2 separate regions of the Homo sapiens genome follow, and region 1 is linked to region 2. A link means that fine-mapping ties the variant in region 2 to the expression of a gene that starts in the linked region. Tissue or cell type: whole blood. Region 2 holds a variant in brackets; the other region holds the start of a gene. All regions are shown on one strand. Distances are between the middles of the regions.

Region 1 (2,758 bases), 62 kb after region 2:
GTTCTCACTATACTGTATTATTTCTTACAACTGCATATTAATCTACAATTAACGCAAAATACAGTTTAATTCGAAAATAAGTAAAGTTAGCCTCAAAGCAAATTAAGTACAATTAAAAATAAATCTAACATCAGCTAAATGAAGTGTTCTCTTCTGCTCAAGCTTGTTTGGATACGTAATCTATGAATCAAAGAATTTATAAAACACATTTTCCTCACCAGGACCCCTCAATTTTCCCTCACTCACACATGCACACAAACACAGCAACTGAGACAAGGGGGTCCAGACAGAAAATTTGAGATTTTTAAAAAATACGCGATAGAATGAAAAGAGACCTGGGCTGAATCAGGGAGAAAAATCTTTGTCCAGGTTCTATAAAACAAACCAACGGTGTCACTTTGGACGGATCCTCTAATCTCTCAGCCTGCAATCTGAACTGTTTCTACAATTTAAACTTCTCATGTAGGAGGTTGCTTAGTAGAGTGGTTCTCAAACTTTTTGGTCTCCAGCCTCCAAAGAGCTTTTGTTTACACAGATGAAAACCACCAATGTTTACTATCAAAAATTAAAAGGGAGAATTTGTTTTTAAGAATACACAGGCATCGGGCCTCCAAACGGCGGTGAGATCACTCCATACCATGTAGCCTTTGGAAAACTCGATGTACACGACCTTGGTACTATTAACGAAAATAGTTGTAACCACACTTGGAAAACCGCTGGCTTACTAACAAGCGAGATAAATCTACAAAAGTAACTGGAAAGGTTCAAAACAGTGAACAAACGCGTTCTTTTAGAGTACAAAAGAGTCAAGGCGGGAAAAAAACGGTTTAAAATCCCAATGGAGGAAAACTTGGACGACCACACCATCGGATAAAACGGGAGAGCTTTTGAAAAGCCAGGGGAGCCGGGCTTTCTCCCGGCGGCAGGGAGGCTCGGAAGTGCTCACGGCTGCAAAAGATGACCGCTATTCAATCAGTCCGCACTGCGCCTTCAACTCCGTTATAGCCGTAAGAGACCCACAAACACCGCTGTGGATGTAACTTTTGGCAAAGACCGGGAAGTCGTTCAAGAACTCTCCCACCGTCCCGACGCTGGCGCCGCGCCCCGCGAACCGGGGTCCGGCCGCGCCCAGGCTCCGCAGAGGCTCCTCTCCCGCCCCAGGCGCCCGGCCGCCGCGGAAGCCGGGGAGCACTGGGCGGGCGGGGCCGGAGGGGGCGCGGGTCACAATCCCGGGCCGGACCAGGGGGCCGGTGGGTCGAGGGCGGGAAGTCCCGCGGGGGCCGGGGAGCGCGGGGCTGGGGCCCCGGCGTCGGCGGGACTCACCAGGTGCCGCGCCACCTCGGAGGAGGCCATGGTCGCGGGCAGGGGCACGGTGAAGCGGCTGTATCAGCCCGGCCCCGAGCGGCTGGTCCCGGCGACGGCGGCGGGAAGGCCGGAGGGCAGAAGCAACGGGCGGGGCGCGAGGCTAGGCTGCCTCCGCGACGGGGAAGGGACAGGGGCGGGGCCGAGCTGGAGGCCTCCGGGGGCGGGGTTGGGGCGGACGCCCTGTGGTGCGCGCTGAGCGTTTTGCCTGCGCCAAGCGAGCCCCTCACAGGAGCTACCCTCGACGCCTGAGGACTGAGCGTCAGCGTTGGGGCGGGCTGAAGGAGAGCTGGGACTCCAGGAAGACGGCGCGAGGAATGCAGGCGGGAACTGCGGAGCAGTGATTGCGGCCCTCGCGAGGCCGGAAGTGGGCGGGCCTTGAGGCGAGGCCGCCCTAGGTAGGTGTGGCCGAGACAGCGGGGAGCGGAAGTGGGCGTGGCCTGGTGGCGTGGGCGCGGGGCGGGGGTGCGGGGGGCGTGTCCGCCCGGGCGCGGCCCAGTGAGGCGGTGGCCGAGTCCTCTGGCCTCAGACGCGTAGGCTGGCAGCCCGCTGAGCCCGCCAGACTCCGCCGCCGTCGGGAGCCGGCCGCTGGGAGCCCGTCGCTATGGGACCGCGCTGAGCCGCCCGCTGGCGGGGGAGCAGCGCGGTCGAGGATGGAGGGGCCGGCAGAGTGGGGCCCCGAGGCGGCGCTGGGCCCCGAGGCGGTGCTGCGCTTCCTGGCGGAGCGCGGGGGCCGGGCCCTGCACGCCGAGCTGGTGCAGCACTTCAGGGGCGCCCTAGGCGGCGAACCGGAGCAGCGCGCCCGCGCCCGCGCGCACTTCAAGGAGCTGGTGAACGCCGTGGCCACTGTGCGCGTCGATCCCGCCGACGGCGCCAAGTACGTGCACCTCAAGAAGAGGTTCTGTGAAGGGCCGTCCGAGCCCTCCGGGGACCCGCCGCGAATCCAGGTGACCGCCGAGCCCGAGGCCCCCGACGGCCCTGCCGGGCCCGAGGCGCGCGATCGGCTCCCCGACGCGGCGGCCCCGGAGTCGCTCCCTGGACAGGGCCGCGAGCTGGGCGAGGGAGAGCCCCCCGCCCCCGCGCACTGGCCGCCCCTGAGCGCCGGGGCTCGCAGGAAGAACTCGCGGCGCGACGTGCAGCCCCTACCGCGGACTCCAGCCCCGGGGCCCAGCGAGGACCTGGAGCTCCCGCCACATGGCTGCGAGGAGGCGGACAGGGGCAGCTCCCTTGTGGGGGCTACCGCACAGAGGCCGGCCCGCCAGAACCTCCGTGACCTGGTGATGGGCAGCTCCCCGCAGCTGAAGAGGAGCGTGTGTCCCGGGGGCAGCAGCCCGGGCAGCTCCTCCGGGGGAGGACGCGGCAGAGGCGGGGGCGACTCAGACAGCGCATCGGTGGC
Region 2 (2,758 bases):
ACACTACTTTTAAGGACACGACACATTCTCGTACTCAAAGATCCTTTTAAAAGTATCTTTTTTCTTTGGGAGGCCGAGGCAGGCGGATAACGTGAGGTCAGGAGTTCGAGACCAGCCTGACCAACATGGAGAAACCCCATCTCTACTAAAAATACAAAATTAGCTGGGCATGGTGGCACATGCCTATAATCCCAGCTACTCGGGAGGCTGAGGCAGGACAATTGCTTGAACCTGGGAGGCCAAGGTTGCGGTAAGCTGAGATTGCACCATTGTACTCCAGCCTGGGCAACAAAAGCAAGACTCAGTCTCAAAAAACAAAAAAAAAGTATCTTTTTTTTTTTTGTTTTTTGAGACGGATTCTCGCTCTGTTGCCCAGGCTGGAGTGCAGTGGCATAATCTTGGCTCACTGCAACCTCTGCCTCTTGTGTTCAGGCGATTCTCCTGCCTCAACCTCCTGAGTAGCTGGAATTATAGGCATGTTGCCACCATGCCTGGCTAATTTTTGTATTTTTAGTAGAGATGGGGTTTCACCATATTGACCAGGCTGGTCTCAAACTCCTGATCTCAAGTGATCCACCCACCTCGGCCTCCCGAAGTGCTAGGATTGCAGGCGTGAGCCACCACGCCCGGCCCCATTTTTAGAAATTAGAAATAAATGCCAGGGAAAATATTTCTCTCTGCTGAGCTAGCAGATGACTTCCATCTAAACTCTGTGTGGTCCCTTCTGCCCTGCCTGCCTAGAAGTTAGAGCCCAGTCTTTGTGTTCACTTAAAAATTCCCTCAACCAGGGCTCTCGGCTGCCCTCTGTGCAAACCCCTTCTTCGTACCCTGTATTATAAGGCTCCTGTTCTCCTCATGTTCATGGTTGTAACGTAGCTGCATTTTTAAATTGTAAATTACCGAGCATACTTTTTGGAAATACAAGGGGCATAAATGTTAAATGAAAAAATTATTCCAAGATATAGACAGACATATCAAATTGGGTAGTAATAATAATGATGGTCATGTAACCTGAGGGATAAATATAAACTGTACTTTTTCTTAAAGTGGGGAGGGTATATAGGAAATCCGTCTGTCATATGCAACATGCCTCATGAGTTCTTCTAGAATCTTGTCAATAAAGGAATAGGGAAGACAGAACGTCAACGATATTTGGAGACATCATTTGTTCTGTGCATCTCCCCATTCTAGTCATCTAATGTTCACACACTATTATCTAAGCACACATCATTTTACAAAGCTACATATAGAAATATGGATTTATACAAAAGATAAATTAAGGGATATTTGTTTCACAACAATATTGGCAAGGACATATTTAAATAACAGTCCTTTAATATAGAATTAAATAATGTTTTGAGTGGTATCTTTTTATTAGTGAATTGGTAAAACTAAGATTCATGCTATATGAGAAACTCTTGAATAAAAGAAACTAAACAAACATAATACCCATGTACAATATGCAATCTGTGATTGCATCCTGGTTCAAAAACAAAAACAGAAAAATCACCAAATAAAAAGGAACGATTTTGAAAGCCAATCTTGGGGCAACTGGGGAAATCTGAATAAGGACTGAAGATTGGGTGAGATTATGGTATTCCTGTTTTCTTAGGTAAGGGGAAGGACATAGGTATCCTATACTTTCACTTTTCTGTTGTTTGAACTTTTTCCAAATAAAACAT[C/T]AAAATTCGCATTATAAATAAATTAGTAAACTATTACTTTTACAAAACCATTTCCTGCACAGTTCATTTACATAGCAAGTACTGTAAGTGTATTTGAAATAATAAACTAGCACAATTGGATTACAGATTAACTCTTCAAGAAATCATGTATTTTCAAGAAAATAGCTTTACTCAAAACCTAAATTGCTGCTTCAGAACTAGAAGCAAACAAAACTACAGAAGTTCAGTGATTTTTTTGGTGCCAGGGCTACCCCAAGGTCATCTAGACCAGGGGTCCCCAATCCCCAGGCCGCGGACCAGTACTGGTCCATGGCCTGTTAGGAACTGGGCTACACAGTATAAGGTGAGTGGCGGGCAAACAAGCATTACTGCCTGAGCTCCGCCTACTGTCAGATCAGTGGTGGCATTAGATTCCCACAGGAGCACAAACCCTATTGCAAACTGTGCATGTGAGGGATCTTGGTTGTGCGCTCCTTGTGAGAATCTAATGCCTGATGATCTGAGCTGGAACAGTTTCATCCTGAAACCATCTCCCCTGGTCCGTGGAAAAACTGTCTTCCAGGAAACGGGTCCCTGGTGCCAAAAAGGTTGGGGACCACTGATCTAGACCACCTAACTACATCCTGAGAGACTGAGTTCAAATGGAAAGTAAAGCTACTTCACAGCCTTCACAGATATCCATTTCAGGGCAAACAACCACCCCAGCAACACTCAAAAAAGGCTTTATTAAGCCATAGTAAAAATGTTTATAGCTCATGGTTAAGATACTTCTTAGTAACCTAGTCCATTACAAGCCCTTGGTAAACCATTTCTAATGGAAGAATATTTGCTCAAAAGGCCAAAATTCTCTTTGGTCTCAGTCAAAGGAGTGAGATGACAAAGGGAAGGTCATAGTTTGGGAAGCATCACAGTAAGACGCATACACTGTGTTGCCACTGTGGCTGTGAGGCCCACCACCTTCAGGAGTTGGGCTGTGGCAAATGTGGCTTACCCTGCTAGGCATAAGAAAACATCCAGTCGTGTTTCTTCTTTTAGCCTTGGCACTAACAAAGACAAACCACCACTGAGACTGGTTG

What was found. PIP is the estimated chance that this variant, and not a neighbour inherited with it, causes the effect.
Region 1: it holds the start of SEPTIN10, and the variant in region 2 is fine-mapped to the expression of SEPTIN10 in whole blood (TOPMed, PIP above 0.99).

What each region holds. Positions count from the first base shown.
Region 1 is chr2:109,612,475-109,615,232 of GRCh38, forward strand. SEPTIN10 (septin 10) reads right to left here and starts at 1,492. Exons shown (of 11, transcript NM_144710.5): 1 at 1,324-1,492. The coding sequence starts at 1,353. SOWAHC (sosondowah ankyrin repeat domain family member C) reads left to right here and starts at 1,890. Exons shown (of 1, transcript NM_023016.4): 1 at 1,890-2,758. The coding sequence starts at 2,016. It also overlaps a transcript of RANBP2 not described here. RefSeq lists an enhancer at 382-1,291 and silencers at 1,144-1,233, 1,264-1,513, 1,774-1,943.
Region 2 is chr2:109,549,982-109,552,739 of GRCh38, forward strand. The region is part of intron 9 of SEPTIN10 (septin 10); the gene reads right to left. It also overlaps a transcript of RANBP2 not described here and the pseudogene RPL37P12. Among named protein-coding and RNA genes, the nearest start is that of SEPTIN10, 63 kb to the right of the region's middle. The variant C/T (reference allele first, on the strand shown) is at 1,683.